Regions from separate parts of the Homo sapiens genome. Here region 2 is linked to region 1. Evidence: fine-mapped QTL for protein levels in blood plasma. A gene starts in region 1. The other region holds a variant in brackets. All regions are shown on one strand. Distances are from middle to middle.

The links. A credible set is the group of variants that fine-mapping cannot tell apart. PIP is the chance, under the fine-mapping model, that this variant and not a neighbour inherited with it causes the effect. The UK Biobank Pharma Proteomics Project read protein levels with antibody pairs (Olink). The fine-mapping took linkage between variants from a reference panel, not from the people measured, so its PIPs are less certain.
Region 2: its variant is the best candidate, but not a certain one, in a credible set for the plasma level of the CCN4 protein (UK Biobank, PIP 0.57).

Annotation. Positions count from the first base shown.
Region 1 is chr8:133,188,598-133,191,499 of GRCh38, reverse strand. CCN4 (cellular communication network factor 4) reads right to left here and starts at 461. Exons shown (of 5, transcript NM_003882.4): 1 at 287-461. The coding sequence starts at 355.
Region 2 is chr8:133,112,279-133,115,180 of GRCh38, reverse strand. TG (thyroglobulin) reads right to left here. Exons shown (of 48, transcript NM_003235.5): 44 at 1,578-1,759. Among named protein-coding and RNA genes, the nearest start is that of SLA, 11 kb to the right of the region's middle. The variant T/C (reference allele first, on the strand shown) is at 1,386.

The DNA of each region.
Region 1 (2,902 bases):
GCTGAGGGCCCCGTTCTTTCTGCACTGTTTCAGGTGGGGAGAGAGGGCAGGCTGGACCTGTGCAGTTTGTTTCCCCAAGTGTCGCACCGTCCTCCTCACCCTGCCAGCTTCAGCCAACCTGGGCAGCTGACTCCTCACCCTGGGCTCTGTCCTTGCCCTGTAAGTGGCCACCTTCCAGCCCCAAACCTTCCTGGCCCTTTTCATCCTGCCCACCAGCCCCCATGTAGCAGGACCCAGTAGAGAAGGGAGCTGGGTCTCCCTCTGAGCCCCTCCAGGCAGGACTCACCGTGGCCAGGACGGTGCTGGCGGCTGCTGCTGTCACTGCTGCCAGCGTCCAGGGCAGGAACCACCTCATGCCTGGACGTCAGTGGCACAGGCATCGACCGAGCAGCCCAGAGGATCCGACCACCTCTCGGGGGAGCTGGGCCCAGACTGGCCGGCCCATCAGGAGCACCAGATATGCCTCTTCCGCAGCCCTTGGGGGGTTTTATTAAAGCAAGATCTGACGTCAGGGTGAAGGACAAACCCTGCATTTTCCTCTGAAAAAACTTTTCCTGCCTCTCTCTCTTTTTTTTTTTTCTTTCTTCCCTCTGTCCCCACCTCCAGCCTGAGCTTGGCCAGCCTCCCCAGCTCTGACAGTTCTTAAAGGGAAAGTTACAAGGCTATGACTTCACACTAGGGTGTGAAATTCTCACAGAGGAGCTGGGGTCATCCTGCCTAGGTCTTTCACTACTGTAGGGAGGGGGGAGCATGGGAGGGTGCAGGATGTCCGAGGAGATACTGTTACCCCAGGCAGGCGGGTGTGTGGGCTTTGAGAGGGCTCCCAGTGGGAAATCAACTCCCTGTCATTTCTTCAGGCTGCTCCTACTTCTGGTTTTCTTTTTCCTTTTCTTTTTCTTTTTCTTTTCTTTTCTTTTTTTTTTTTTTTTTTTTTTTTTTTGAGACAGAGTCTCGCTCTGTCGGCCAGGCTGGAGTGCAGTGGCGCGATCTCTGCTCACTGCAACCTCTGTCTCCCAGGCTCAAGCAATTCTCCTGCCTCAGCCTCCTGAATAGCTGAGATTACAGGCATGTGCCACCACACCCAGCTGATTTTTGTATTTTTAGTAGAGACGAGGTTTCACCATGTTGGCCAGGCTGGTCTCAAACTCCTGACCTCAGGTAATCCGCCCACATCAGCCTCCCAAAGTGCTGGGATTACAGGCGTGAGGCATTGCGCCCAACCCTACTTCTGGTTTTCATTTGCCCTCTTGCACTCCCCTCTACCTAGCTGCAAGCGAAAGAGGTGGCTTTCAGTCCACCCATCTAGAGATGATAGGAATTCACAAATAAAATGAGCTCTGAGGCTCAGGTTACAGCATCACCTTCATGACACGTGAAAGCCACGGTAACGCATTTGCTGTTTGCCGTCTCTGCTCATTGGTCAGAAGCCGTTTGGTGCTGGAGCTGTCCCCACGTGTCTCTGGATGCTTGCTATCCCTGGGGGGTTGGGTTTCCTGGCCTGTACCCTTATTGCACTGCTGCCACTGAGTCTCTTCCTTGGGCAAGAAAGGAGATGGGATGTCTTCTATGGGCTGTCCTAGTCCAGCCCTGTGCTCCCCATGGGGACCGCTGCCACAGCCTCCTGACTGATACCCAGCCTCCCTGCCCACCTTCTACCATCCACACATCTCAGAGCAATCCTTGAACTAGCGTCATGTATAGATCATCTTCTGGATACAACTGTCCAAAGCCTGCCCATCACACAGCACAGAGTCCCCAGTCCTGGCGTGGCCCCTGGGCCAGCCAGCTCCCTGTACACTTCTTCCTCTCTCCCTTTCGTGCACCATGCCCAACCACAATGGCCTCCTTGCAACTCCTCTCACACCTTGGCAAGTTCTCAGCATCTCCAGGTCTCAGTAGGAATACTCGACACTGAGGTTTAAATGACAGTTACTCCTTCTCTTCTCTTTTCCTGTAGCTTATTAACAAGGGATGCTGAAGCATGTGTGGCTGCTTGGAGGTAGCAGCAGGCTTGTGTTCATGGAAGAGGTTTATGATCCCTATAGACATGACCCCAGAAGAGATGGTGCTCATGATTTCTCCATTTACTGACCTGGGGATGTGCCTCTGATCCAATTCCGGCCAATGAGACATAAGGGAAACCTGCTAGGGTCTTCTAGAAAAGATTCCCTTCCTCAGGAAGAGAATGACCATCTACTCATTCTTTTCTTTCCTTGTGTGCAAATGTGATGGTTGGAGCTGCAGCAGCCATTTTGGGTATATGAGGCTGAGAATAAAAAGTCAACAAATTGAGGATGGCAGAGTGGAAGCAAAAAAAAGGTCTGAGTCGTTGGGACTTCATGTTGTTGTTGGAGCCACCATTCAGACTTCTCATTACATGAAATAATTTAATATTTTATTGTTTAAACTGTAGTTAGTCTGAATTTTCTTTTGTTGGAGTCAAGTTGTATACTAATTGATACATGAGGATTACTAAAATCATATATGTAAAATTAAAGGGCAGGGTATGTGGGGGGCATGTAAGGACTGCCCAATAAATGTCAGTCATTTTCTTCTCATTAATTTATTGATGCTTAAAAACAAATCCCAGGCTGGGCACGGTGGCTCACACCTGTAATCCCAGCACTCTGGGAGGCCGAGGCGGGCAGATCACAAGGTCAGGAGATCGAGACCACCCTGGCTAACACAGTGAAACCCCGTCTCTACTAAAAATATAAAAAATTAGCCAGGCATGGTGGCGGGCACCTGTAGTCCCAGGTACTCGGGAGGCTGAGGCAGGAGAATGGCGTGAACCCTGGAGGCAGAGGTTGCAGTGAGCCGAGATCGCGCCACTGCACTGCAACCTGGGTGACAGAGCAAGACTGTCTCAAAAAACAAAACAAAACAAGCAAACAAACAAAGC
Region 2 (2,902 bases), 76 kb after region 1:
CACGCAGGTTGTCCTTAAGGTCAGATAAGGCAAAATTAAGGCAAGAACCTAGGTTTTTTGATCTCTAGCCCTGAGCTCTCTCTGCAATGTGATCTAGCCCAGTCCTGACTTGATTATAAGCCTCTCAGGGTCAGGGACTGGACATCTGAGAGTTCTTATGGTCCAGCCCAGGGCAAGGCCTCCCAAAATAGCTGTTGGCTGTTTAATCTAAAGTGGAGATCTCCACTAGAGGGAAAATTAAAGCCTTTTAGTCCGCAAGATCCAAGTGGGTGGTACAGTTTTATTCTGAGCCAGTGACCCTCCAGTTGGAAACCACAGGCTCCTGAGTGGAGAGACCAAGCAGGGCAGTGGGTCTCTAACACCTTCCAGCCCATCCCTTCCCAACAGGCTCCAGTTTACCAAAGGATGCTGAGCCTTGACATTGGCTCTGTCCCCAGGGACAACAAGCAAATGGGCCTCCCAGAAGGAGAGAGAAAAGGAGGCACAGAATGTAAAAAGCACTCGCATCCCACCCATTCTTCCCACTGGGACTGGAGAGCCCTCAGAAAACCAAGATGCGTCACCTGTGAGGGGACTCAAAGGTGACCTGAGAGCTGCAGTCCCCACTGTGGTCTCATCCTAAGGAGCTCAGAAGGAAGAAAGGACTGGAGCCCTGGCTATTTTCTTATTTCTATTCAAAAATCATTTCTTGTGCATCTGCTGTGCATTTCTGTAAAAGTTCTCAGCCTCAGTGAGCTCATGCAGTACTAGGAGAGGGAGGCAGGTCTGTCCCGACAACCCCTGGGGCCGGGGGCGTGCTGCAAGAGAGGGACCCTGGGGACAGCAGGGCCTGGGGGCTGCAGCCTTTAGCCATCTTGGGGTGGGGGTTTGGCAGCCTTCCCCAAGTGAGAGAAGCTTGAGCTTGAATGGGGACAAGGCATGTAAGCAGTGGATACAAGAAACAGCGGGCCCCAGAGAGAGGGCGCAGGGCTGTCAGAGCTTGGGCTGTTCCTATGTGGGGAGTGGTATCAGCCACAAAACCTCCCTGCCTCCAGGCCTCTGCTTCCCACGTGCCGGGTGGGCCTGGACTGCAAGGTGGAATCAGCTGAGGGAGCTTTGGAAAATGCTGCCCCACTATGGGCCCTGTGTGTCACCTACCCTTTAAATGCGCTCACGTGTGCCTGATGGGCAGCCAAGACTGGGGGCACTGGGCTCAGTGAATGCAAGGCCAGGAGCGTGGAAGGTTGTCCTGAGCATTTGCTGAGCGGCTGCTTCAGGTGGAGCGTGCACCAGGCACTTCTGGCAAGTGCTTCGTCTCTGCCCTCCGACAGCTCCCTCATGGCCCAGGAAGAGCCAGAGTCACCCCCTCATTTCTCTCATTGGCTTGGGGTTTCCTGGCAGCAGGG[T/C]CCACCCTACATGTCCTCCAGGGCTTCCCCTCAGCAGGGACACTCCCCATGCTGTAGGCTGAATGAATGATGCAGAGGAAACCTCAAGCACAAAGCCACGTGCCTTTATTTCTCATTCATGACCTGAACACCAACTGAGTCTGCTCCAAAACATAGCAGTAGGAATCTGCACCCTCCTGCAGCTTAGCTTACCGGGTGGCATTCTCCAGAGCCCGGGAGAAGGAGGCATAGTCATCCGTGGAGTGCTCCAGAGAGTAATACCATGTAGCAGCAGCCTCGACGCGGGCATCTGAGTCCTCGCCACCCAGAGAATTCTGCAGTGCCTGGTAAAAGGCTGTTTTGCTACTGGTCCGGCCTCGACTTTCCTCAAATTGCTAGAAAAAAAAAAAGATACGAAATTCCTCAGTTGGATTCTGAAAGGTCCAAGTCAGTGTCCCTCAAACCCTTGCTCTAGAATTTTCTCTCTGGGAAGCAGTGGGGCATGGCATTAAACACAAGTGGAAGCCAGACTGTCTGAGTTCGAATCCCAGCTCTGCCTCCTTCTAGCTGTGTGTCCTTAAGCAAATGGCTATCCCTCTCTGTGCCTGCCTTCCCCATCTGAAAATGGGAGTGCCTGCCACATAGGATTATGGCAAGTAGTTACAATGGTACCTGGCACTTAATAAGTGCTCTGTTAAGGTTAACCATTGTTGCAGTCTGAGAACAGGTCAAACCCCCGAGTTTCACTTGCTTTCCCGGGCTCCTTGCTCAGCCAACTCATGAGTAACTGTGGTCTGGTCATGTTAGGAGAGCTAAATTCAGTTTCATTCATGGACTCAGTCACTCATCATATGAATGCTTCATGCACACTTTCATACAGATAGTTACGCTTCACCAGGGCCAGCAGTGCCCCAGGCTTGGAGAAACAGCCACAAACATGCCGATCAAGCTCCCTGTCTCTTGGGGCTCACGTTCTAGTGGCAGAGGTGGAAAATGAGCAAATAAATGTATGGTATATCAGGGAACAGGTGCTACAAAGAAATATAAGGCCATATACGAAGGATATGGAATGCTGGGGCTGGGGCTATTTTATATAGGATGGCCAGGAAAGGCACGCAGTTCTCTGGGGGATGTGTGTCCAGATGGGCGCAACTTTTTCTATTTTCTTTTCTCTGTCTTTCTCTTTCCTTCCTTCATGCTTCCCCTTTTCTCTCCCTTCCCTCACCTTCTCTTCCCCTCCCCTTCTCTCCCCTTCTCTCTCCTTCTCTCTCTATTTCTCTCTGAAATTCCCCCCTCTCTCTGTTCCTTCCTTGTTCTGGTGTTGCTGCTGTCTGCACTGTGGGAGTCTGGGGCCATTCACTGCCTTCCCCCAGGACCCAGTTTCCTCCTTTCTGAAGACAATGGGCAGGGGAAAGTCTGGGATGCAGCCCCTGGTGTGAGGCCCAGCCTCCTGGGCCCCAGCACAGTCCTGTGCTATGTGTTTACATATTTCTAGGACCTTATGTAAACGGTGCAACGTGCTTATCAGCACACTCTGG